Linked DNA regions of Homo sapiens. The protein of the gene in region 3 purifies or fractionates together with the protein of the main gene of each other region. This does not show direct contact. Each region holds a gene or a part of one and is shown on either strand. Other genes may lie near its edges.

Region 1 (7,127 bases), on a different chromosome or scaffold from region 3:
TTATGAAATTATGATAATAGTAAATACTTAAAAAAAATCATTACAGAATTAAAATTGGGGGCCGGGTGTGGTGGCTCATTCCTGTAATCCTAGCACTTTGGGAGGCCAAGGCAAGCGGATCACTGGAGGTCAGGAGTTCAAGACCAGCCTGGCCAACGTGGTGAAACCCTGTCTCTACTTAAAACACAAAATTAGCTGGGCGTGGTGGTGTGTGCCTGTAATCCCAGCTACTCAGAAGGCAGAGGAAGGAGAGTCGCTGGAACCTGGGAGGCAGAGGTTGCAGTGAGCCAAGATTGTGCCAATGCACTCCAGCCTGGGCAACAAAGCAAGACTCCATCTCAAAAAAAAAAAAAAAAAAATTAAAATTTGGCAGCTCTGAGTCTGTTCCCAAAATTTAAGTCATGATAGCCAGGTGATGGGTGCTTGAGCATGCAGCCTGCTCTTCTCTCTGCTTTTGAATATGTTTGAAACTATTCAGTTACATGTGTGTTTTTTTAATAATTTGTTATTAATTTTTGCGGGTACATAGCAGGTACATATATTTATGGGGTTTTTTTTAAAGTCTAGATGGATTGAAAAGTTTAATATTAATATGAAACATTAAACTACAAAAGGATCAGGAGGAAAGACAGAAGGTGGTGATCCCTGAAATCTAGAAGTTTTAGGGTAGAGACGTCAATCTGTGTAGAATGCAAAGCTTCTAAGTCATTCCTCTGCTTAAAGCCTGTCAGTAGCTCCCCATGGCTCTCAGGACCCAGGCTGAGCTCAGATACCTCCTCCTCCAGGAAGTCCTCCCTGACTTCAACCTTCTGGTTAGGTTAGAAGCAAACCATAAGTGGAGACCTTAGGGGCCCACTTACGTTGGGCAAGGTACTATATGATTTCATTATAATGTATATGGCCCTGTGACCCACCTCAGAGTCAGGGATGGAGGAGCCTGGTGCAGATACTGGCAAATCCTTTGATGATGAGTGAGTATAGGGATGCAAGGGTCGGTGGGGGTGTTGGGTCCTCCCTGGGCTCCCCAGCACGGAAGGACGGACGGGAGCCCAGCCCTGGCTGCCCCCTCCTGCCCATGGCCCAGCCTCCCTCTCAGGCACCAGCCAGTCCCAGGACTCTCTGAAACCTTTCCTGGGCTCCTTAGTCCAGCTCCAAGCTGCCCCTCTGGCCCTGTGCTACACCTGGTGCTCCCTGCTCTCGCTTCCAGCCATCTTCTCTAGAGTATGGCCAGCCCTTCTTCTGCCCGGAAGCTTTCCTTGGCTCCCATGGTCTGAGCATAAACCCAGGTTCCTCCGCCTGGCTTCCAAAGCCTCCATGGTCCCTTCTGCACCTGCTTCTCGAGCTGTTGCCCCAGACCTGAGATCAGCCCCACCCTGCCTTCCACGGGGTGTGCTCCTTCCACCTTGCTGCCTCGGCCTCTTTCCCTGGCATGGCCGCTCCCGCCCTGCCCAGGTGATCAGCCTGTGAATCCCCTCCCTAACCCCCACACAGAGCACACCTCCCAGGCTGGCTTCCGGCTTGACTATGTTCCTCCATGCCTCTCTGAGTAGCAGGATCAATGTGAGAAAGGTCTGCCCTGTCTGCAGCCTCCCCAGAAGCACAGTACTTTTCGTGGCGCGTACACGGGCTGGTAGATACAGTTGTCCCTCTGTATCCGTGGGAGATTGCTTCTGGGACCCCCAAGGATTCTCAAGTCCCATATATAAAATGGCTTAGTACAGTTAACAACAGAGACGTGTTCTGAGAAATGCATCGTTAGGCAATTTTGTCCTTTGCAAACATCACAGGTATACTTAGCACAAACCCAGATGGTCTAGCCTACTACACACCTGGGCTATATGGGATAGCCTATCGCTCCTAGACTACACATCCATACAGCATGTTACTGTGCTGAATACTGAAAGCAGCTGTAACACAATGGTAAATATTTGTGTATCTAAACATAGAAAAGATCCAGTACAGCTGGGCGCGGTGGCTTACGCCTGTAATCCCAGCACTTTGGGAGGCTAAGGTGGGTGGATCACCTGAGGTCAGGAGTTCAAGACCAGCCTGGTCAACATGGTGAAACCCCCATCTCTACTAAAAATACAAAAATTAGTGGGACATGGTGGCATGCACCTGTAATTACAGCTACTGGGGAGGCTGAGGCAGGGAGAATTGCTTGAACCCAGGAGGCAGAGGTTGCAGTGAGCTGAGATCGCCCCATTGTACTCCAGCCTGGGCGACAGAGCAAGACTCCATCTCAAAAAAAAAAAAAAAAAAAGTCCAGTACAACTACAATATCATAATCTTATGAGACCAGTCTTTTTTGTTTTTATTTATTTATTTATTTTTTGAGACAGAGTTTCGCTCTGTCGTCGAGTCTAGAGTTCAGTGGTGCAATCTCGGCTCACTGCAAGCTCCGCCTTCCGGGTTCACGCCATTCTCCTGCCTCAGCCTCCTGAGTAGCTGGGACTACAGGCGCCCGCCACTGCGCCCGGCTATTTTTTTTTTCTTTTTGTATTTTTAGTAGAGACGGGGTTTCACCGTGTTAGCCAGGATGGTCTCGATCTCCTGACCTCGTGATCCACCCGCCTCCGCCTCCCAAAGTGCTGGGATTACAGGCGTGACCGCGCCGTGACCTCCTGTGGATTTTCATGGGACTCTGAGAGGCGCCTCAAATCCATTTTGGAATAAGGCAGGTTATTAGCATGGGGTCTAACCGTGGGCTGTCTCGGTGTCCTGGGCTGGCTCTTGGGGCGGGGGTCCTGATGTCCGGGACCTCGGTCCTACCTGGGAGGCACAGATATGGCGGGGAACGGGAAGCCCGGGGGAGCATTTAGAAGCTCGTGTGCACAGGGAAACCCTGTCTCTACAAAAAAATTAAATTAGCGGGGCCCAGTGGTGCGTGCCTATGGTCCCAGCTACTCGGGAGGCTGAGGTGGGGGGACTGCTTGAGCCCAGGAGGTGGAGGCTGCAGTGAGTCATGATCACCCCACTGCACTCCAGCCTGGACAACAGAGCAAGACCTTGTCTCAAAAAAGACCCCAGGCCAGGCGCGGTGGCTCACCCCTATAACCCCTGCACTTTGGGAGGCTGAGGTGGGCGGATCACCTGAGGTCAGGAGTTCGAGACCAGCCTGGCCAACATGGTGAAACACCCGTCTCTTCTAAAAATACAAAAATTAGCCGGGCATGGTGGCGTGCACTTGTAATCCCAGCTACACGGGAGGCTGAGACAGAACTGCTTGAACCTGGGAGGCGGAGGTTGCAATGAGCTGAGGTCGCACCACTGCACTCCAGCCTGGGGGACAACAGGGAAACTCCGTCTCAAACAAAACCAAACCCCAAAAGTTCTCGTCTAAGTCCTTCTCCCAGGACAAGGGCACTTATCTCTTGGCGGTGCGTCACAGGTAGGGATATTCCGCGATCCCTCACCTTGACCCCGCTACGAGGACAGCCACCTCTTTCAGGTAAAGAGATCGCAATGGGAAATCATTCTGATAAAAATTCCCCTGTGGAGAATGCAGGCATCGATCCCGTTACCTCTCACATACTAAACGAACGCTCCTCCACTTAAGCTGATTCCCTAGCCCGGCCTAACCTTTGCAGCCGGCGCATATTGTGGCTCACGTCACCACCGGTGTCCCCCGCCGCCCCCGCCCCGCCCGGCCAGCTCGCCACCCTATTGGATCCCTCACGGCTCCGGCTCCACGGCCATGATGGGCTTGGCTCAATTTAGTTTTAAAAAGCATTGGCCACTCGGATTGGTGGTCCGAAGCGTCCGTCAAGCGGAGGACCTGCTGTTGCTACGGCGTAGGGGGTCCCAGCCAGGTTTCTCCCCGTTTCTGATTTGTTTCTCAGGCTCCGGGGTCCTAGAGGTTCCGGATCCGTCAAGTCCATGGGAAAAGAATGCGCCCCTCGCGCTTGACTGACGAGGCTTGCGGGCCAATCGGAATGTAGTCAAAGGAGCCGCTAGGCGATCCAATAGGTAGTAGGGGGCGGGAGAGAGGGGCCAATGAGCCTGGAGCTGGGGGCGGGGGCAGGGCCGCGATTGGCTGAGAGGCGGCCAGAGGGCGGGCGGGGGGGAACTCAAGGCCTGCTTGATACGTCCGCCATTTTGGGCGCTTCGCTGATGGTGTCGGTGAGCGCGTTTCCCGCCTGAGCGCAACTAGCGGCGGGTCGTGGGCACCTCCAGGTAATGGGGGTAGGGGAGGCGCCGGAGCAGGCCGCGGCGCGGGGTGTGCGAGGCGCGCGGGCAGGCGCGGGGCCCCTCCACCTGGCCTCAGCGGCTCAGGGAGGGAACGTCCCGGCCCCTCTCCCCTCCCCCCCCGGAATTCGTCGCTCCGCGGGCCCGGGAGGCGCGGCGCCGAGTCCTTCCCGGCCGCTCCCCGTCCGCTCCTGTTAGCCGGGGGCCCCGCCAGGACGGGCGCCGGGAGCGGGACGCGGTCGGGGCGGCGACTTTGTGCCTCGTTGACGTTCGCGGCCTGGCGCGGCGGGCGGGCGAGGCGCGCCCCTGACCCGGCTCTGGCTCCAGCCTTCCCGCCCGCCGGCCGCGGCCCGCAGTCTCGCCCCCCGCCCGGCCCGCGCCCGGTCTCCGCTCCCGCTGGGCCTCCCGGGGGCCTCGGGGAGCGCGTCAAGTTGAGGCAGCAACTCGCCGTCAAGAGTCGCGAAGACCATTGTTGGACTCTGCTCTTCGGGAAACAAGTTTTGTGGGTTTCTGTTAATTCGCCGCAGAGTCATCGGGATCCACACCAGCCAGTTCCGAGGCTCCCAGTACCCTTCCCAGTGGCTTTTTAACTCCTGTGAGGTGGCTTGTATGTAAACTGTCTCGAATGCCTCCCTGGTGTATTTGAGCCGGGGGTGGGGGGGGTGGGTGGTCCTTCTTGTGGCTTGAAGTCCCTCCCTCTTAAAGAAGCCCATTCACTGTTTACTTGGAGGTGTTTCCTGTTGAGGTCCTGCTGGCTGTGATCACAATTTAGACTTTTTAATTATAGGTGAACGGGATGGGTCTTTGGATGTACCTCCGTGCCCTGACGTTTCAACCGCGTGACTTAATGTCATTTTCCTGGTACTTCACGTTTTCTCTGTGGGGCTTTGGGTCTGTTTTGCTTTTATGGGAGGGGGTGCTTGACAGGCGTTCCCTTTCATCCTCGCAGCACTTGTTGACGGGGTGGTGTCCTTTATTCGTGGGACGTTTACTTTGATTTTGTCCTCAAGGTCATGTTGCAGATAGGCTTCAAGGGGGACAGGGACTCCAGGTTTCCAACCACCGAACTGTGCCTCAAGTAGCAAGTGTATGAGACCCAGTTATGGTGGTGGTTGGGTTTTCCTCACTGTGGAGTGGAGTCAGTGACCACTTTTTAGCTCTGTGACCTTGGGCAAGTTACCCAGCTTCTCTTTTTTTTTCTCTGTAGTATGGGAATAATAATAAGTGTCCCAGCCATAAGTTTGTCAGGATAATTGCCCTAATACATGTAAAACAGCTAGAGCTGTGCCTGGCACATACAGTCACCTCAGTGGCTGATTAGTGGTTAGGCTAGTTAATGGCTATTATTGTTTAATTTAAATTTGATTTTTAAATGTTTAGGTACTATTGGGAAGTCAGATGAGCATTTGAGTCCCGACTCTTGGTGACTGCCTTTAGAAAGCTCTGTGTAAGACTCAGTTGGGCTGAAAAAGTAAAACTATAAGTTATTTTAATTTTTTCAGGACAGGGTTTTTGACCATTCCTTAAATTAGGAACATTTACCGGAGTAATTAATGAGTAGTAGCGCCTCATAATGTTTAAAGAGATGGTTAAATACAGAAAAGCCCATCACAAGCTTAAGTCGGGCTTTGTTCCTCATGTGCTTTTGGATACTAGTTTCTGGGTGACTGCCACCCGAATCAGTAACTAGGGTTTCTTAGTGTAAGTCCTCCTTGTTACTGAAAACTGTAAGGGTGCCGTGGATTGCAGTATTCTTCAGCAAAGATAGTTTGGGAAATAGCTTTTGTCCTGGAGGGATACTTTGGAAGGTATTCTCCACTTCAGCATGTCTGGTCAGGGAGTCTAGAACATTGAACAAAATGCCTGCACTCAGTCAGAAATAAACTCACAATCCTTTACCGCTTGCCCGATACTCTCCTCCATGGTGCTCGAAACCTTGCGTGCACCTTCCCCTGGTATTGTTGTGTTTACTTGGGACTTGGTTTGCTGTATTGGAGATGTGTGTTTTGATGGACTCAGTCTTAAGTAGAGATGAGTATCTTGCTGGTGGAACTTAAGGACAGGAAGAAGATTGTTTTCGGTTTAGAACTCTAGCCTTTGTGTAAAGTATAGCAAAGCAAAGTCAACAAGCAAAAAGTTGTTAGTTTCAATGAACTAATTGAGAATTTGAGAATCAGACCATAGCTGAGCAGAAAATGAATAGAAGTAACATTGACAGGATGAGGTTGCCTAGCTTTTTAAGATAAAGCTTTGGCCGGGCGCAGTGGCTCACGCCTGTAATCCCAGCACTTTGGGAGGCCGAGGCTGGCGGATCACTTAAGGTCAGGAGTTCGAGACCAGGCCAACATGTGAAACCTTGTCTCTATTAAAAATACAAAAATTAGTCGGTCATGGTGGCGTGTGACTGTAATCCCAGTTATTTGGGAGGCTGAGGCAGGAGAATCGCTTAAACCTGGGAGGCGGAGGTTGCAGTGAGCCAAGTCCAGCCTAGGAGACAGAGCGAGACTCAGTCTCAGAAAAAAAAAAAAAAAAAAAAAAGATAGGGCTTTGCACCTATTTGGTAGATTATGTGCTTGTTACAAATAAACATCTCTTTAAAACAAGTGTCACGATCGGTATTTTATTTCTATGACAACTTCCATTGTCTAGTTCTATATTTTCAGTATTTGAGAGGCAGCCTCTGTGTGTGTTTGTGTGTGTGTGTGTTTTGGTCTAAAATTTTACAGTATTTTACTAAATAAGAGTAAATGATAGTGAAAATAAAGCTCTTCTATCTGCTCAACTAAAACTCAGCATTGACTTGGTCCTTAGAAGTTATGGTCTGCACCCCAGTATTGGCTGCTACTTTTTCTAATGTACTGAAAAAAAGATCTGGCCTCTTGGCTTTAAACAGCTTTCATATTTCTTTCCTTTCTTAACTTCAAATGATTGTCTTTTGA
Region 2 (7,798 bases), on a different chromosome or scaffold from region 3:
TTTGTGGGCCTACTCCTGTGGTATAAAAATTAGAATTAGGTAATGAACGATTGCATCTGGAGAAAGAGGGACAGGTCTTTATTAGGGCACGCTCTGAAATCTCAGTGGCCTAACACAAAAGAATGCGTATGAGCTGTAGCACAAGTGTCCCTAATTGGCAAGCAAGTATCCTCCCAGTGAAGAGTCAGGAAACTCTAGCACAAGTGTCTCTAATTGGGAAGCAAGTATCCTCCAAGTGAAGATTCAGGAAACCAGGAGTCCTATCTTGCGGCTTTGCCATCTTTAACACATAGTTTCCAGTGCAAATTTGCTCATCTGCCTCAAGTTGATGGGGAGTGGGATATATTGGATTGCTCATGTGATGTTTCCATAGGCCAGAGCTGGAATAGGAGTGCATCACTTCTCACATTCCACTGGTTAGAACCTAATCAGCACACCTAACCCATATACCTAATTGCAAGAGAGGCATGGAAATATAGCTGTGTGGCCAGAAGAATTTAGCATTTGCAAGAATCTACTATTCTGATCACTAAACATGTATTTTACCTGTCTTTCCACACACAGAACATACCCTGTCCCAAAGGAGACAATCTAAAGTTTTAACCAGTTACTGGAACAGGCTCAAAGTCTAGGATTTTCAGAAAATGTGCAGTTCTCTTCATTAGGTACAGATGTGACCTAAGAACTAAAAAGACAAATTATCTTTATTGTCACCCCCATCCCTGCAAACCCAATATATAGTGGTAACTCAGGGACAGATAACTATAATACATTCTCTCATTCAGAAAAAAAATGTGATACTGAGCAATACTATTCATGTATAATAATGATGAAATACTGCATAAACATTTTGCGGCCCATCTCCTTGAAACTGAAGAAAGTTCTGATGAAACTCCAATTCTAGTCTTCAGGAGAAACTCCCTGTCCAGTCTTTAGTACAGCTCCTTATACGAGCTTCTGAAATGTTCTTTTTTTGTCCATCATTCTCCATGGCCACATCCTGTGTGGGTACTGGGGAGCTGTTAAGGTTTTATGCTCTATTTTTCTACTTATGCAAGCTTGGGGTTGGACAGTTACCCTCTGTTTTAACACCCGAACAATGATATTTGAGCCAGATTTAGTATGATTAATAAAATTCCTCTAAAAATGTAGTCTTCTGATTGATTTGCTTCTGGTAACTACACCCAAAGTTCTTTCTTACATAATTATCAAGCCTAATTTACTGCTTTGCTGCCTTGCTCCTATGCCAGTTCCTTTAGACCTTTATCGTAGCTATCTTGAAGCCATCTAAAATAATGACTTTGAATGGAAAGACCAAACCCTTTTCCTGATCTTTGTTGCAGGACTTAATCTCAAGGGTAACTATACTCAAGACCTCTTCTAGTTTTTTTTTTTTTTTTATTAGAAGTCTTATAAAAGTCAACTTTTCCAACCCTTCCTGAGAAATATTCCTGTACACTCTCACTTCTGTGAAGTATTTCCTGAGTTTCTCTCTTTAGTAAAACCTTACTAAAAGTAAAATGTAAAATTCAACACAGTATTACTTTTGCTCTTTTCAATCATTTCCTCTGGAGCTAATCTAAACAGATAGGTGATCTGATTTTGAATTATTTCAGGTGACAGTTTTACTAATTACTTTGCCACTGCAAACATGGGCCTCCTTTTTCTAGCCTCCAAATCACATTCTCTACCACCTGCTGCATCATAAATAAGCTGATGTAACATATTTTAGGTTATTGTTTTAGCAGTACTCCACTTCTTGTACCAATTTCTGGACTAGCTATGGTCATTCTAGCTCCTATACATATAAATTCTCAAATCTCAATTTTTTCTCTTACAGTAAGTGCAAAAAGGGGTGTTTCTAATTGGGGTGGCTGTCTTCCAAGTACTGTTTCAGCCACTCATTCTTCTCTTTTCTGGCTTTGGCATCTCCAATACATAGTTTTGAAGGTCACCATGCTCAAAGGCATCAAGTTGACGAAGAAAGAGTAAGGGAGAATAGGAGGACTTCATTAACCCTAAAAATGAGCACATCATTTCCATTCATATTTAATTGGCTAGAAGTTAATCACGGCCAGGCTCGGTGGCTCACGCCCGTAATCCCAGCACTTTGAAAGCCGAGGTGGGGGAATCACCTGAGGTCGGGAGTTCGAGACCAGCCTGACCAACATGGAGAAACCGTGTCTCTACTAAAAATACAAAATTAGCCGGGTGTGATGGCACATGCCTGTAATCCCAGCTACTTGGGAGGCTGAGGCAGGAGAATCGCTTGAACACGGGAGGCGGAGGTTGCGGTGAGCTGAGATTGTGCCATTGCATTCCAGCCTGAGCAACAAGAGCTAAACTCTGTCTCAAAAAAAGAAGTTCATCACATGACTATAACCAACTACAAGGAAAGCTGTGAAATTTAGTTTAGCTGTGTGCCCGGGAAGAAGAAATAAGTTTCATGGGCTAGTCAGTCCCTGCCAGAGGTTCTAACGGGGGGAAAAAAAGATAAAAATAAAAGAAAGTGACTTTACATGCCTTGTCCATTTTAATAGTTTTGAACCTTATCCTACTAGTGAAACAGGATCATCATTTCACTATTATATTAAAGAACAAAAAACTCATTTTCTTCCAAACAATGAGATTACTTTAAAGAGAGCATTTTTGGTAGCACAGCACGATAGACACAGAGACTAGACTGCAGAGGGCTGACAAGTCAATTTCAGAAAACAAAAAAGACACTGATTGTAGACACTTTTTTTTTGAGATGGAGTCTCGCTCTGTCGCCCAAGCTAGAGTGCAGTAGCAGGATCTCAGCTCACTGCAAACTCCGCCTCGCAGGTTCAAGCGATTCTCCTGCTTCAGCCTCCTGAGTATAGAATACTTTTTAAAGAAAGAAAGTTTGCTTGTGAAGGAAATAATTGAAAGCTACAGAAGAATTAGCTAAGGAACCAGAATTTGTAGAAGGTTGACAACAGAAAAGATAATAAATGCATGAGAAAGAGGGGTATTGGAACTAGAATATGTATGAAGAGTTTATCTCATATATGAACAGGGAGTCTCTCATTCGTTGATACTGGAGAAAAGGCAATCTCAGGAAATTTCTAGCACTTGGAAAATTGTGAAGTCTAAGTTAAAAGTCATATAATAAAATGGGCTGGGATTTAAAGATTGCGAAAAGTATTCAAGTGGAAAGGGAGAAAAAGATGCTGAAGAATATACAAAGTAGGAGGGAGGGATGCAGCTGAAATTATAAAATCTAAATCAGTAGTGGTGAGATACACAATGCAGTGCTCTGTTCTACACTGGAACTCAGCAACGACTGTAGGAGAGGAATAGGCAGATGGTTACCACTCCGTATATATATTTACTATAGCACTTATTACACTGTAAAGCCCCTGGAAACAAGAGACTTTGATTCCACAAATTATGCGCACAGTAGGCACATGATGAATTTTTGTTTGAATGAATTGATTTAGTCATTGCCAATTCTGCCTTGGTACTCTGTAGAGTACTGGCAACTGCCCACATTTCATATGGTATGCCAATGCTAAAAAGAAAAAAAATGCTAAAAAAAAAAAAAATCCAGGCATATTCAGCTAAACTAAGCAGTCTTAAAATGGCAACTATGTCAGCTGAGACATACTTTTAATCTTGTGCCAGTACATCTGTCTTTGATGTTTGCTTCATTTTCCGTATGCCACTATACTCCTACTAGACCAGAAAGGGATAATTCTGAGTTCAATGGGCTCCACTATCATTTCAAAAGTCCTGAAACTTCTTCAGACACCTAAAAATGAACCCACAACTCCCATAACAGCATTCCTTCCGAGAGAAGTATACAGACAACAATCACTATTTATGCTTGCTTCCAAGCTGAATCGAAGAGGGCCGGAAGAGCTAAATCAGGGTCATTCAGTGAATCGTCTACAAAGTCTGGCACAGACCACGCATCCTTCCCGTGTCTTCCTCCCCTTGGAAACTTGAGGTGTAAGTAATGATCTTAGACATCTCCTAATCGACTGCCTTCATATTACACACGTGTAAACTCAGGTAGAGGATGTCTATGAGCCGAGCTTAAACTCAGGTAAAGAAGGCTCTTTTCCCAACACGACGCCATCTCTCATGATCCAAAGCTCTATCTCTCGATTTGGCGGTGGAAAAAAATGACCAGGAATAAAACTACGTACAGCAGTCCAGAACGAGGCCCCACCTCCCGGATCTGGCGGACCGGCCTCCCGTCAGCAAAGTGTCTGGACCGCGCTTCCGCACCTCACACTGCCCGGGGCCGGCTCCTCTCCAGCCTCCCCGTACTCCCCACACGCCGCAGCACTGCGCGCCCGCGGGGCCCCAGACCCGGCCCTTGAAATCTCACTTTCGCCTTTCGGCCACCCGCGCGCCACGGCTCAGGCGACGGCTGATGGCGTCACTGCACTTCCGCCTGCGGCTGCGTTCTAATCACAAGCCAGGAAGGAAGAAGGGAGGGCTGCAGGGCTGTGTGTGCGGGAAATAGCGAGGAAAGAGAAGAAATCCGGGAGCTCGCGGGCGCTCTGGTTGCAATCGCGCCCCCCTCATCTGTCCCCGCCGTTCCCCTTCGGAAGCTGCCCCAGGCACACTTCCCCGCTTCTTTCCAGTCTCCTCTCCTCTGGTTCTCCCGACACCCGGTCTCCCTGTTACGCCTCACCCTCCTTCCCTTGCTCCCTCCCTCTCCCTCCCTCCCTCCCTCCCATCGTCAGGCTCCCCGCCCTTAGTATCGCGAGACGAGGTGAGAGCTGGCGGAGCGGCGGCGGCGGCGGCGGCAGTAGAGGTGACCGAGGCGGTGGCGGCGGAGGCGGCACCGATTGCTGTGTCGGCCCCAGTGCGGCCGAAGTCGCGGTAGAGCGTAGCCCCACGCCCCTCCCCCGTCCGCGCCCTCCCTCTTTCCCTGGGGATGGAGAAGGCGACGGTTCCGGTGGCGGCGGCGACGGCTGCAGAAGGAGAAGGGAGCCCCCCGGCGGTGGCGGCTGTGGCGGGCCCCCCCGCGGCGGCGGAGGTCGGCGGCGGCGTTGGCGGCAGCAGCAGAGCTCGCTCGGCCTCGTCTCCTCGTGGGATGGTGCGAGTCTGCGACCTGCTCCTGAAGAAGAAGCCGCCGCAGCAGCAGCACCACAAGGCCAAGCGTAACCGGACTTGCCGACCCCCCAGCAGCAGCGAAAGCAGCAGCGACAGCGACAACAGCGGCGGCGGTGGAGGCGGCGGTGGAGGCGGAGGTGGCGGCGGCGGCACCAGCAGTAACAACAGCGAGGAAGAAGAGGACGACGACGACGAGGAAGAGGAGGTTTCTGAGGCAAGGGCCTGGTTTCAAAGGAAGGAGGGAGGAAGGGACTGTAAGGGATAGGGGCCGAAGGTGGGAGGGGATTTGGAGTGGGACAGATTCCAGTGGGTTGATCTCTTAGGGGCCAGGCTTTCGACTGCCCCCTTTCTTCCCTCGGCCTAAATCGTGAGGTGTGGGAATGTGGGGGAGGGTAGCTGACACGTGGGGGTGGGAGGACCACGGAGTTCACAGAGTTGGTGAACAGCCTGTTATCATGGGATGGCTCACTTGGTTAAGGATGGAGGGAATTGGTTAGATTCCCTGTTTGCACGCCGGGGGGTGGGGGGGTGGTCTGCCTGGGGCCAGTAGGGCCACCTTAGTCTGAGGCGGGATCGGGATCAAAGCGGGAGGAGTAAAATAATGGGTAAATGAGTCTCTTGGGGACCAACTAGGAGGTTGATCAACTTCTCCCAGTTGTGAGGTGGAGGGGAGCAGTTTGAGGGGGGACGTAAGGTTGTAATGGACTCAGAGCTAAGTGTTTGTGTATGTGAGGGACACGTGAGAAGCTGTACTTTTCCATACTGTTCTGCAGGGTTTTTCGTAACTATCCTGGCTGCTGAAGTAACTTCATTTCCTCGATCTCCCAGGGATTTTCGATGAACTGATGCTGTATTTGTATAAATTTATCAGTAACTTTAAATAATTACAAATGACCATATACATTTGTAAGTGGATGAAAAATATATTTGATCCTTACACGTACATACATACATGCCTTCGAATGTTTCCTTAGTGAGTTAGAATTAAGCTAGGACCTGTTGTCCCGTAATATGGGACAGCCAAAGGGTAGGCTTTGGAGCCAGGCCTGGTTGTGGTGAGTTGGAATAGGAAGGCCTCTCGGTTTGTCCTAGTGATCTGGTTTCATAATAACTTTATAATTTTTCCTGGGTCCACAGACAGGCGGCGTTGCAGGACCTTATTCCTCACAGAAGCCCTTACAACCCAAAGGCTCAGTAAAACATACCATACTGACAACCAACTGAGAGTTAGCTTTACTAGTTATTAGCTGTTTTACCACTCTCTTGTCTCCTTCCTGAAATAGAATCTAGAAAAATCTTTATTTGGAGAGGGAAATCTTTATCAGCAGAGGGAAAACAGCTTTAAAGGCTGATTTTAAACTTAGTTCTAAGAGGAGACCAAGTGATTCATCTAAAAGTACCACTTACTATTTATTCTCTTCCACAAACATGGAACTTATTTTGATGCAAGTCTGGTTTTCCGAAAATTGGAATTATTGAATCCTGGTCTCTGTTGAAATAGAGAAGTACCTTTTAAAGGATTTGACACATGTCTATTTGTAGAAGACCAGATTCTCTTTTATCTCAGACTGGATGAAGTTGTATAGGTAGAGATATTAAGTGCTGAAGTATGTATGACAAAAATATGCCAGTCCTTGTTTTTATTCCCTTTTAGCCTGTTGGATTCTGAGAATAGGTTTGTATTGATAGACTTATATTGGCCTACTTGGATGTTTAGGATAGTGTGTTGCTCTGGCGGCATTTGAAACAAGGAAGAGAAAGATGTAATGGGGTCCTTATCCCTAATAAAATTTGTTATGGTACTTAGAATCATTCAATTGTATGATTCTTCTCAAAGGTGAGAAACATTTTACAGGTAATTCAGCCCTTTATTTTAAAAAGGAGGAAAACAAGGTTTAGAGGAAAGTGGTTGTGGTGGGTAGTAGCAAAAGTACAAATCAAAGTTTTCTAATGTCTCAGACCTGTACACTTTTTAATAATAATTTATTTCCTTTTATCACCCTCCTGATATCATTCAGAAAAATAGTTACTGAATAGCAAGGTAACACAATCATGCAGCTATAGGCAAAATACCATTACTTAAAATTTTAAATTCTCGTGAAACTATTAAGCTCTGGTTTAGAGCAAGGTTATGATAGTTGAATGCAGTACTTACTGGGATATTCTGCTGCAAACTTAACATACCTAGGTAGTTTTGTCCATTGGAATGCGGCCTAATAAGCAGAACTTTTAGTAATTCCTTAAATCATGAAGAATGGCTGTAAGTTTGTAGGTATGTTTATTTTGTGGGTCAGGTTTGTTTTCCTTTTGTAATATAGGAATGGTTATGTTGACTTTCACCAACTATGGTAGTATTTCTATGTTTTTAACATACCTTATCCTGTCTTTTACATGGTGTTAAACAATGGGTTTGTCATTTATGAAGATGAGTCAGGAGAAATACGTGTAAGAAAGTGTGCCCATTGGCCGGGCGTGGTAGCTCACGCCTGTAATCCCAGCACTTTGGGAGACCGAGGCGGGCGGATCACCTGAGGTCAGGAGTTTGAGACCAGCCTGGCCAACATGGTGAAACCCCATCTCTACTAAAAATACAAAAAAATTAGCCGAGTGTGGTGGCAGATGCCTGTAATCTCAGCTACTTGGGAGGCTGAGGCAGGAGAATTGCTTGAACCCGGGAGGTGGAGGTTGCAGTGAGCTGAGATTG
Region 3 (2,887 bases):
CTGTGGGGACCTGGAGCGGCCGTTTTTGGAGACAGGCCTGGCAGGACCTCCTGGAGGGCTAGGTGTGGGGGTGGGAGCTGCAGTTGGGTGATTCCAGGGGCCCCGGTGTGAGTTGTGGGAGGCAAAGCCCCCTTGCTGGGGCAGGGAAGGTACAGCCTATTGGCCTGCGGGGCCTCATGAGCCCTCAACCAAGTGGGGCAAGGAGGAGGCTGTGCTTAGCACGGGCTTGGCTTTTAAAGCCAGGGGCTGGATGAGGGCATCAGCAAGGCTGGTCCAAGGTGGGGTCAGGGAAGACGTTGGGCACCAAGGTGGGGAGTGGGCGCCGGAGGTCCCGGCAGGATGGAGGGACCAGGAATGTGGGCGTCGGGGCACCAGTGGCACCACAGGAGAGGAGCCACTGACATCCTGGGCACCGCCTGCCCCCAGGTGAACACACCCGCAGCCGAGGTGCTCTACACAGTCATCCAGGACTGGGCCCAATTGGATGCGGGGAGCATGGTGCTGGACGTGTGCTGTGGCACCGGCACCATTGGCCTGGCCCTGGCCCGGGTGAGCCCTCCTGCCCTGCTGAGGGCACCCTCTCCCCACCCCAAGACCCCCATTGACCCCAGCTCAAAGTCACCACAGCTGACTCCATCATGCCCCAGGCCCAGCTCCTCTTTGCTGCCCACAGGGCCCCATGTACTCCCCTCCCTGGGTGGGGCGACACCACGCTTTCCTGTTTCAGAAGGTAAAGAGGGTCATTGGGGTCGAGCTATGCCCAGAGGCTGTGGAGGACGCCCGGGTGAACGCCCAGGACAATGGTGAGTGGCAAGGCCGTGGGTGGGGGTGGGGATGGGGGCAGCCGCCACCCCTGCTGCAAGCCTCAGCCACAGCCAGGGCTTGGGGGCTGCCCGACAGGTAGAGCAAGTGAGCAAGCTCTTTGGCTAGGGGTTCCCCAGGGCTGGCCCTGCTGGGAGGGCATGTGGCCCTCTGACAGGCCACGGTGCCATCTCTTCAGAGTTGAGTAATGTGGAGTTCCACTGCGGGAGGGCCGAGGACCTGGTGCCCACCCTGGTGAGCAGACTGGCCTCCCAGCACCTCGTGGCCATCCTGGACCCACCCCGTGCTGGCTTGCGTGAGTGGCTTTTGCTTAAGGAGGTGGCACGGGAACGAGGACACATGGGGTGGCTCACCATGTTATGCACTCTCTGGCTGTGGGGACCCAGCTGGTGTTTGCCTCCTCAGATTCCAAGGTGATCCTGGCCATCCGGAGAGCTAAGAACCTCAGGCGGCTGCTGTACGTCTCATGCAACCCCCGGGCAGCCATGGGCAACTTTGTGGAGTGAGTGTCTGCAGGGGCCTGGGTGGGGGCTAGGCCTGCTACCAAGCCCCCAGCTCCCACAGGAGCCCCTGATTAGCCTATCGGCTGACCTTAGCGCCCCCCTTTTCCCCCCACAGCCTCTGCAGAGCCCCATCTAACCGGGTGAAGGGCATTCCCTTCCGGCCGGTCAAGGCTGTGGCAGTGGACCTGTTCCCGCAGACCCCGCACTGTGAGATGCTCATCCTGTTTGAGAGGGTGGAGCACCCCAATGGCACAGGGGTCTTGGGGCCCCACAGCCCTCCAGCTCAACCCACACCAGGACCCCCAGATAACACCCTACAAGAAACTGGGACCTTCCCCTCATCCTAGGCCCAGGACCCATTATGGGGACAGGAGCTGAAGGGCTCCCAGGGCCCCAGGGGCGGGGAAGGCATGGCTTGCTGGCCAGGATATTCAGAGGTAGGCAGCCAAAGGGCACAGAACCCTGTGCCCCACCAGGATTGGCCTGCTGCTAGGGGCCAGGGGCCCTGACCAGGAAGACAGGTGGGTTCCTGTAGCCTGTTGCCCATCCCCAGGGCCTTTGTGGACTAGCCAAGGCTGTGAGGGCCAGAATAAACAACTGCTCAACAAAGGGTGTTTCTGTGATGAGAGCCAGGGGTCTGAACACAGGGCCTGGGTGCCAGGGAAAGGGCCAAACTAGGCCTAGGCAGCTCTGCAAGCCTCTCTGCATGGCTGGGGGAGTCAGGGCAGAGCTTACTTTAAAAAAGAATGTTCGATTTGATACTTAAACTTGAGGAGAGGCAGAGAGAGGTCTGGGAACTGCACCAGCTGGGGGCATGGGGTGGAGAACACTGGGCAGAGTTGGCCCCTCTGTGGCCAGCCTGGCCCTCAGCCCAGCAGAGAGGGCATCAACCAAGGAAGGGGCCATGCTGGGGTGCTGCTCAGCTGTTACAAAGGCAGGGTCCAGCCTGCAGGGAGGCCCCAGGAGGGGATCTGGCCAGTCAAGGGTCCACAGGGTGCCAGCCTCTCACCCTCAGAATAAAGACATCAGCCATTCCCTTCTGGACAGTTTGCTTTATGTGTTCAGACAATCAAGGCTCGCCTTCCAGGCACAGCCCAGTGCCCTGGATGGCATCAGCACAGGCTCCCCTGCCCCGGCCTTGAAGCATGGCTGTGTGCACGATTCATACCCATGCTTGGCAGACGGGTGGGGGGGGGGGGGGGGCGCACAGAGACCACAAGAGTATGGCAGCACCTGCTGTGGTGGTGCCTGGGAACAGCAAGACACAGCGAGGCTCCCCAACCTTTAGGGGAACACATGTGCACGAAGCTTTGGTTCACAGGCGCATCTGGCTGGCTAAGGGCAACAGTCACAGTCAAATGACTATTCACAGCTGCAGACAGGAGGCAAGACAGAAGCAAGTGTCTAATTATAGCAATTTGAGTTGAGGGTTTCTTTTTTAAAGGTCAACAGAAGCCAACCTTGGTCACACAGGTAGTGAGGGAAGGATATGTTGTGGGCGGCCCACAGGCCAACATTGTTTTCCTGACAGAAAAAAAAAAAAAAGCGCCATCAGTACCGCC
Region 4 (7,035 bases), on a different chromosome or scaffold from region 3:
GATAATTTTCTATTTGTTCTACTCCATTAAAAATTGTAGTTATACATATTTAGTCAGGACCCAAGAAATTGATTTTATGACACAATAAATGTTTATGATCCAGTTTGAAAAACAAAGATATAATAAAACTCATCTATTATTCGACATATAATTAAATCTGTACTTAGATTATGTTTTCTTTCCAAGCACCCTTGAATTTTTACAGAAATTAAATATTAGGCCACAAAGAAAATCTGAGTTAATTTCCCCCAAAGAAGAAATACTACAGACCACATTCTCTGGTCACAAAACAGTGAAATTAGAAGTAAATGTTAACAAAAATATGCAAGCAAAATTTCTGCCAGTTGGAAATTTTTTAAAAAGAGACAAAACCTCATAAAAATGGCTTCTAAACAACTTTCAGGTCAAAGAGAAAACAACAACAACAAAAACACATCAAAATCTAGGATACATCATATATATGACACTATAAAAATTAAAATAATCTGGTAAATTAAGATTAGAGGAACAGATTAACAGACCCAAAGATGCAAACAAACATGGGAATTTTAGACTATAATGATGACATTTTAATGTAAGAAAAAGGATTTTTCAATAAATGAAAAACTGACTAGTAACTGGTGAATAATGAACAAAGGAGAAAACGATATCACCCTTTCTTTAGTCCCTATAATGAAATAAAATTCAGAGGAGATTTAAAGTTAAAAATCAACACGAAACCCAAAGTGAGATACAAACTCATGTCCATTATGTTGGCTATTATCAAAAACACAGGAAATAACAAGGTTGGAGAGGATGTGGAGAAACTGGAACCCACCACACTGTTGGCAGAAATGTAAAATGGTGGAGCACCTATGGAAAACGGTATGGAGGTTCCGCAAAAAATTAAAAATAGAATTACTATATGATCCAGCAATACCACTTCTGGGTATACAACCAAAAGAACTGAAAGCAGGGTTTCAAAGAGAATATTTACACATTCATGTTTACTGCAATACAATTCAAACAGCCAAGATGTGGAGGCAATCCAAGTGCCCATTGATGGATGAATGGATAAACAAAATGTGTATATACACACAGTGAAATATTATTCAGTCTTAAAAAGGAAGGAAATTCTGATATATGCTACAACATGGATGGATCCTGGGGATGTTATGCTAAGTGATGATTCCACTTTAATGAGATACTTAGAATAGTCAAATTCATAAAAAGACAACGTAAACGGTAGTTGCCGGGGGCTGGGGGAATCAGAAATGAGGAGTAGTTGTTCAATGCATAAAGAGTTTCAGTTTCACAAGATGAAAAGAGTGCTGGAGAATAGTTGCATGACAATGTATATGTATTGAACTGAATGTACTGAACTGTACACTTAAAAATGGTTGAGATGGTAAATTTTCTTATGTGTATTTTATCATAATTTTTAAAATTAACAGACATACTAGAGGAAAATATGAATGAGTATATTTATAGTGTGGTAATGCGGAATGCAGAAGACTTAGAGGAAAGGATGAACAAGGTGACCACATAAAAATCTAAAATTTTTCTATGGCAAACAACAAAGGGGGTGCTATGGTCTGTTTGTGCCCCACTCCCCAAAACGGTATGTTGAAATCTTAACCATTATGGTAATGGTATTAGGAGGTGACATTTGCTGGAGGGAGGAAGGGGTATTAGGTGATGGGGGCAGAGCACTCATGAATGGGATTAGTGCCCTTATAAAAGAGGCCCAAGAGACCCCTCACTCATTCAGCCACATGGGGTTAAAAGATTGTGGTCTAGGAATAGGGCCCTGAGATACCTAATCTTGCAGCACCTTGATTTTGGACTTCCCAGCCTCCAGAATTGCCAAGAGTAGATTTCTATTGCTTATAAGCTACCCGGTTCATGGTAGTTACAGCAGTTCTAACAGACTAAGACACGTGGAATTTAAGATATACTTACAAATAATTTATCGGAGAGACATGTATTAGAAAAACAGAAAAGCATAAAGAAACACAAAAAATCCAAATGGCTAGTAAATTTATGAAAACATACTTAAACTAAAAAATAAAGAAAAAGCAACAATAACATACTTTTGCCTATTAGCTTATTAAAGATAATAAAGGTCTGCAATATTTTAGACAGGTATGAAAAAGCAGACATCAAAACCAAGATGTAGTCTGATACAAACTAGTGAAATTTGTGTGTAGGGTGAAGTGACAATGACTAAAATAATATTTCTATCCCCCTCCTCCCCCCCACCCCCCTTTTTGGGACAGAATCTCACTCTGTTGCCCAGGCTGGAATGTAGTGTAGTGATCACAGCTTACCATAACCTCAAACTCCTGGGCTCAATCAATTCTTCTGTCTCAACCTCCCAAGTGGCTAGGACTACAGGTGCACACCACCACACCTGACTAATTTTTTCATTTTTTGTAGAGACAGGGTCTCACTACATTGCCCAAGCTGGTCTTGAACTCCTGGTCTCAAGCAATCCTCCTGCCTCGGCCTCCCAAAGTGCTGCGACTCTACAGGCATGAGCCACTGTGCCCAGCCAAATACATGCACATTTAAAATGCACTTAAGATTCCTACTTACTTTTGAGTACTTATTGTACTTTCTGTTACAACAATTCAGCACTAACCCTTTAACTAAGTATTGCTTTTCAATTAACATTAACAGACATTAAGAAACCACAATGACTATCTACAGGTTTAACGATGGCTCACATTTTGGCCACAGACACCTACAAAAAGACTGAGTATTGCGCAATGGTCACGGAATTATGAAGCTAAAATGATACATTCAGTATCATCATTCAAAGGATAATAACCATTTTAATGTGGGCAAGGAATACAGAAAACTAAGCAAAGCCAGGAGAAGACTGTAAGACCCAAACAGTTGACTTTTTACTCAAGATCATACAATCTGTATGTGGCAGAGCAATACTCTCAGGAAATCTTTCTGACGACTGGTATAGTTTTAAAAATGTCTCTCACTTATCAACAAGTGCTACTTTCAATATGACAACCACCTTGAAAAGGCAACCACTCTAGAGGACTAAATCTATTTCAGCAAAAAAAAAAAAATTCATCAAACATATACTAAAACTTTCCTCCATTCCGCCAATGCCAAAATAATCTATGAACCCATCTATTTTTATCTCCTTCAATTATCCCCCCCAGGGAAAATATGTCTTTATTCTTTTGCACAGTTAAACAGTCCAACTGTTCTTCAGTTCTCATCACTTGATGCCTCTCTTCAGATACCTCCCTCCCTCAGTCCTTCCCTCTCCACTAGCTTCTTGTCCTTGGTTAACAAACGCTTGGCCAGGTGCGGTGGCTCATGCCTGTAATCCCAGCACTTTAGGAGGCCGAGGCGGGCAGATCTCAAGTCAGGAGATTGAGACCATCCTGGCTAATACGGTGAAACCGGGTCTCTACTAAAAATACAAAAAAAAAAAATTAGCCCGGCGTGGTGGCGGGCACCTGTAGTCCCAGCTACTCAGGAGGCTGAAGCAGAAGAATGGCATGAACCCGAGAGCAGAGATTGCAGTGAGTTGAGATTGCGCCACTGCACTCCAGCCTGGGTGACAGAGTGAAACTGTCTCAAAAAAAAAAAAAAAAACAAAAGAACGCTCAATTTTCAATAATCCTGAAACATATTTTCTTGACATTACTTCCCAATCAGGTTACCTATTTCTCTCTTTCCTTTCCTGAATGAATAATCTCTATCTCATCACCATTCTACTGAAACTGTTAAAGGTTAGTAGTTACTTTTAATTCCAAGGAAACTGGTCACTGATCAGTCCCCACTCAACTTGACTTCTCTACAGGATTTGTTACTAGACAACTAAATACCAAACTAGGTATTTAGGTATCCAGGACACTATCATTTTCTATGACTATTCTAGTCATCCTTCAAATTTTTCATTGGTTTTCCTGCCCATTGTCAAATGATGTTTTTTATTGTACACCCTGCTTAGGACATTGATGAGTCCCAAGTTCTAGGGTTTAGACCACTCTCTGAGCTCTAATATTCAACCATCTACTACCTTGGTACTAAAATAGGATGGGTAATGCAAACACAACATAATTTTTAGTATCTTTCTCCTAAACTCACCTCTTAATTCAGTCCATGGTGTCAATCCTCCAGCTGTCCAAGCAAGGAACATTTGAGTTATCTGTAAATCCTCCACATTCAACTGATCACCTAATATCATCAAATGCGTATCATTTACAACTCCCCTCAGTTGCCTCCTCTGTCATCTCTACAGTCATTTCCCTACATTGAGGCTTCAATGAATACAACAGCTTCACTAATAGCATTTCCATAATGAAATGCTCTATGATGTGTACCAAATAAGATCTACCGTCCCTGACACAGGATATAAAGGCCCCTCACAACCCAATGGTTTACACTTCTATCTTTTCAGTTTCATCTATATTGTCTAAAACCTCCTGTTCTATAATCTGCCCCCAACCCTCCACACACATATTAGACTCTTGGAGGCAACATATATTTTCAACTCTCTCATCATTTGTTCACCCAGTAAACAATGATTTCATTGTTTAGAGTCCACTCCAAAGGTCATATCTCTGTGACTTTTTGTGATCCTCCCCTGAAGAATGGATAATTCAATCATTTGTGAATTACAGATAGTGATTCTACTTTGCTTAGTATTTTGCCCTATTATATGGTTTTATCACACCATACTATTTTAACTATATATTTACATACCATTTTCTCCTGGTGCTCTTGGAGGATCAGGCTTCACTCATTTTTATTCTTTATTCATAAAATATAGTAGGATCTCTCTTCCCTTTCACCTGCCATTATTTCAATCCCTCCAAACTCACTGTACTCCCAAAAGTCAAAGAAAAAAAGGAGAAATAATGTGTAAATAACAATCATTGACAACTTTGGGCACCGAGAAGAGTAAAATAAATCAGGGGGCAGAGGTTAAGTGTATGCCCTCAAATCCAAAGGCTGGCTGGGATTTAGAGGGGCATTAGGGAGGATGTCCTGTACCAAAAGAAGCTTCAAGCAACCATGGCCAAAGAACACCTGATGGCTAAAGGGACTATTTTAAGGTCCTATTTTAAAATAAAGGTGTGGTGGCTCATGTCTGTAATCCCAGCACTTTGGGAGGCCAAGGCAGGCAGATAGCCTGAAGTCAGGAGTTTGAGACTAGCCTGGCTAACATGGTGAAACCCTGTCTCTACTAAAAATACAAAAATTAGCCGGCTGTGGTGGTGTGCACCTGTAGTCTCAGCTACTTGGGAGGCTGAGGCAGGAGAATTGCTTGAACCCAGGAGGCAGAGGTTGCAGTGAGCCGAGATTGTGCCACTGCACTCCAGCCTAGGTAACAGAGCAAGACTCCATCTCAAAAAAATAATAATAAATAAATATGTATAGGGCTGGGCGTGGTGGCTCATGCCTATAATCCTAGCACTTTCAGAGGCCAAGGCACGTGGATCACTTGACGTCAGGAGTTTGACACTAGCCTGGTCAACATAGCGAAATGCCGTCTCTACAGAAAATACAAAAATTAGCCGGGCATGGTGGCATGAGCCTGTAGTCGCAGCTCCTCGGGAGGCTGAGGTATGAGAATCACTTGAACCCAGGAGGTAGAGGTTGCAGTGAGCCAAGATTCTGCCACTGCACTCTAGCCTGGGCCACACAGTGAGATTGTCTAAAAACAAATAAATAATAAATAAATTTTAAAAAATGTATAAAGTACTAATAATGCCCACTCATCATGCAATAATATTTACTTCAATGCACTTATTGAGGGCCTACGACAAGCCAGTCGTTGCCCTGAACAATGGAGATAAATAGGTGAACACAACAGATAAGGTCCTGCTCTCATGAATCATATGTTCTAACAAGGGAGTCACAACTATATAATGTAATGTTAGCTAGTGATACACAACTACATAATGAAAGGTTAGCTAGTGATAAATACTATGAAGAAAAATAACAGTAAAGCTGGGGTAGGGTGGGCTGGGGTGGGTGGCTATTTCACAGGGTGATCAAGGAAGGTCTTCTTAAAAAGGTGACATTTTACTGAGATTTAATGAAACAAAGCATCTGAGTCATATGCAAATATCAGCAGGAAGAGTCTTCCAGGCAAAAAAGCAAATTGGAAGAAGCAAAGATGGGACCTTGCTTGAAAGATTCAAGAAACAATGTGGTGGTGGCACAGTAACTGAAGGAGGGTCATAGGAAATGAAGTCAACTCACTAGATAAAATAACAGGATTAGTCAAAAAGAGTGATTACAGGTAATTTTGACTACATACAATTTCTGTCCTGTAAGCTGACTTAGTTTGACCTGACACTTTACTGTAAATAAACTAACGCAGCATTATCCCACAATGGGAGTATGAAAAGTTACCACATGATAAAGAAGTAAGGTCAATAGTCACATCCTATTTATAATTCACCAATTTTCATCTCCAGTCCTGACCTTAAAATCTAACTTCAGTATCTTGTCCTCTCCAGAGATCCAACACTCAATTCTGAATCCCCACTTCCTCAGCAATCCCTAGACCCCAGGCTAAATTAGCACTTGGGGGCAGGACCTTTGATTTTTATTCTTATTTATTTATTTATTTTGACATGGAGTTTTGCTCTTGTTGCCCAGGCTGGAGTGCAATGGCACAATCTCGGCTCACTGCAACCTCCACCTCCAGGGTTCAAGTGATTCTCCTGCTTCAGCCTCCCGAGTAGCTGGGATTACAGGCATGTACCACCATGCCCAGCTAATTTTATATTTTTAGTAGAAACGGGGTTTCTCCATGTTGGTCAGGCTGGTCTTGAACTTCCAACCTCAGCTGATCAGCCCGCCTCAGCCTCCCAAAGTGCTGGGATTACAGGGGTGATCCACTGTGCCCAGCCAGACCTTCGATTCTTATTTGAATTCTTAAAGACATTTACCTTTTTTTTTTTTTTTTTTTTTGAGATACAGTCTCTGTCCCCCAGGCTGGAGTGCAGTGGTGTGATCTAGGCTCACTGCAACCTCTGCCTCCCAGGTTCAAGCAATTCTTGTGCC

The links.
Region 1: the proteins of TRMT2A (region 3) and PPP6R3 purify together in Homo sapiens (affinity purification with mass spectrometry; 2 studies listed by BioGRID and IntAct, with this or other methods). This does not show direct contact.
Region 2: the proteins of TRMT2A (region 3) and ANKRD17 purify together in Homo sapiens (affinity purification with mass spectrometry; 2 studies listed by BioGRID and IntAct, with this or other methods). This does not show direct contact.
Region 4: the proteins of TRMT2A (region 3) and SMARCAD1 purify together in Homo sapiens (affinity purification with mass spectrometry; 2 studies listed by BioGRID and IntAct, with this or other methods). This does not show direct contact.

What each region holds. Positions count from the first base shown.
Region 1 is NC_000011.10:68,456,652-68,463,778, forward strand, and holds the start of PPP6R3 (serine/threonine-protein phosphatase 6 regulatory subunit 3), read left to right. Parts: upstream 1-4,100; 5' UTR 4,101-4,176; intron 4,177-4,975; exon of another isoform or gene 4,976-5,049; intron 5,050-7,127.
Region 2 is NC_000004.12:73,255,786-73,263,583, reverse strand, and holds the start of ANKRD17 (ankyrin repeat domain-containing protein 17), read left to right. Parts: upstream 1-4,785; 5' UTR 4,786-4,915; coding exon 4,916-5,308; intron 5,309-7,798.
Region 3 is NC_000022.11:20,111,348-20,114,234, reverse strand, and holds the end of TRMT2A (tRNA (uracil-5-)-methyltransferase homolog A), read left to right. Parts: intron 1-426; coding exon 427-549; intron 550-673; coding exon of another isoform or gene 674-727; coding exon 728-803; intron 804-1,000; coding exon 1,001-1,117; intron 1,118-1,227; coding exon 1,228-1,324; intron 1,325-1,418; coding exon of another isoform or gene 1,419-1,440; coding exon 1,441-1,672; 3' UTR 1,673-2,360; downstream 2,361-2,887. UniProt on the Homo sapiens protein: S-adenosyl-L-methionine-dependent methyltransferase that catalyzes the formation of 5-methyl-uridine in tRNAs and some mRNAs. Mainly catalyzes the methylation of uridine at position 54 (m5U54) in cytosolic tRNAs.
Region 4 is NC_000004.12:94,210,837-94,217,871, reverse strand, and holds part of SMARCAD1 (SWI/SNF-related matrix-associated actin-dependent regulator of chromatin subfamily A containing DEAD/H box 1), read right to left. Parts: intron 4,838-7,035; exon of another isoform or gene 4,720-4,837; intron 4,135-4,719; exon of another isoform or gene 4,102-4,134; intron 1-4,101. UniProt on the Homo sapiens protein: DNA helicase that possesses intrinsic ATP-dependent nucleosome-remodeling activity and is both required for DNA repair and heterochromatin organization.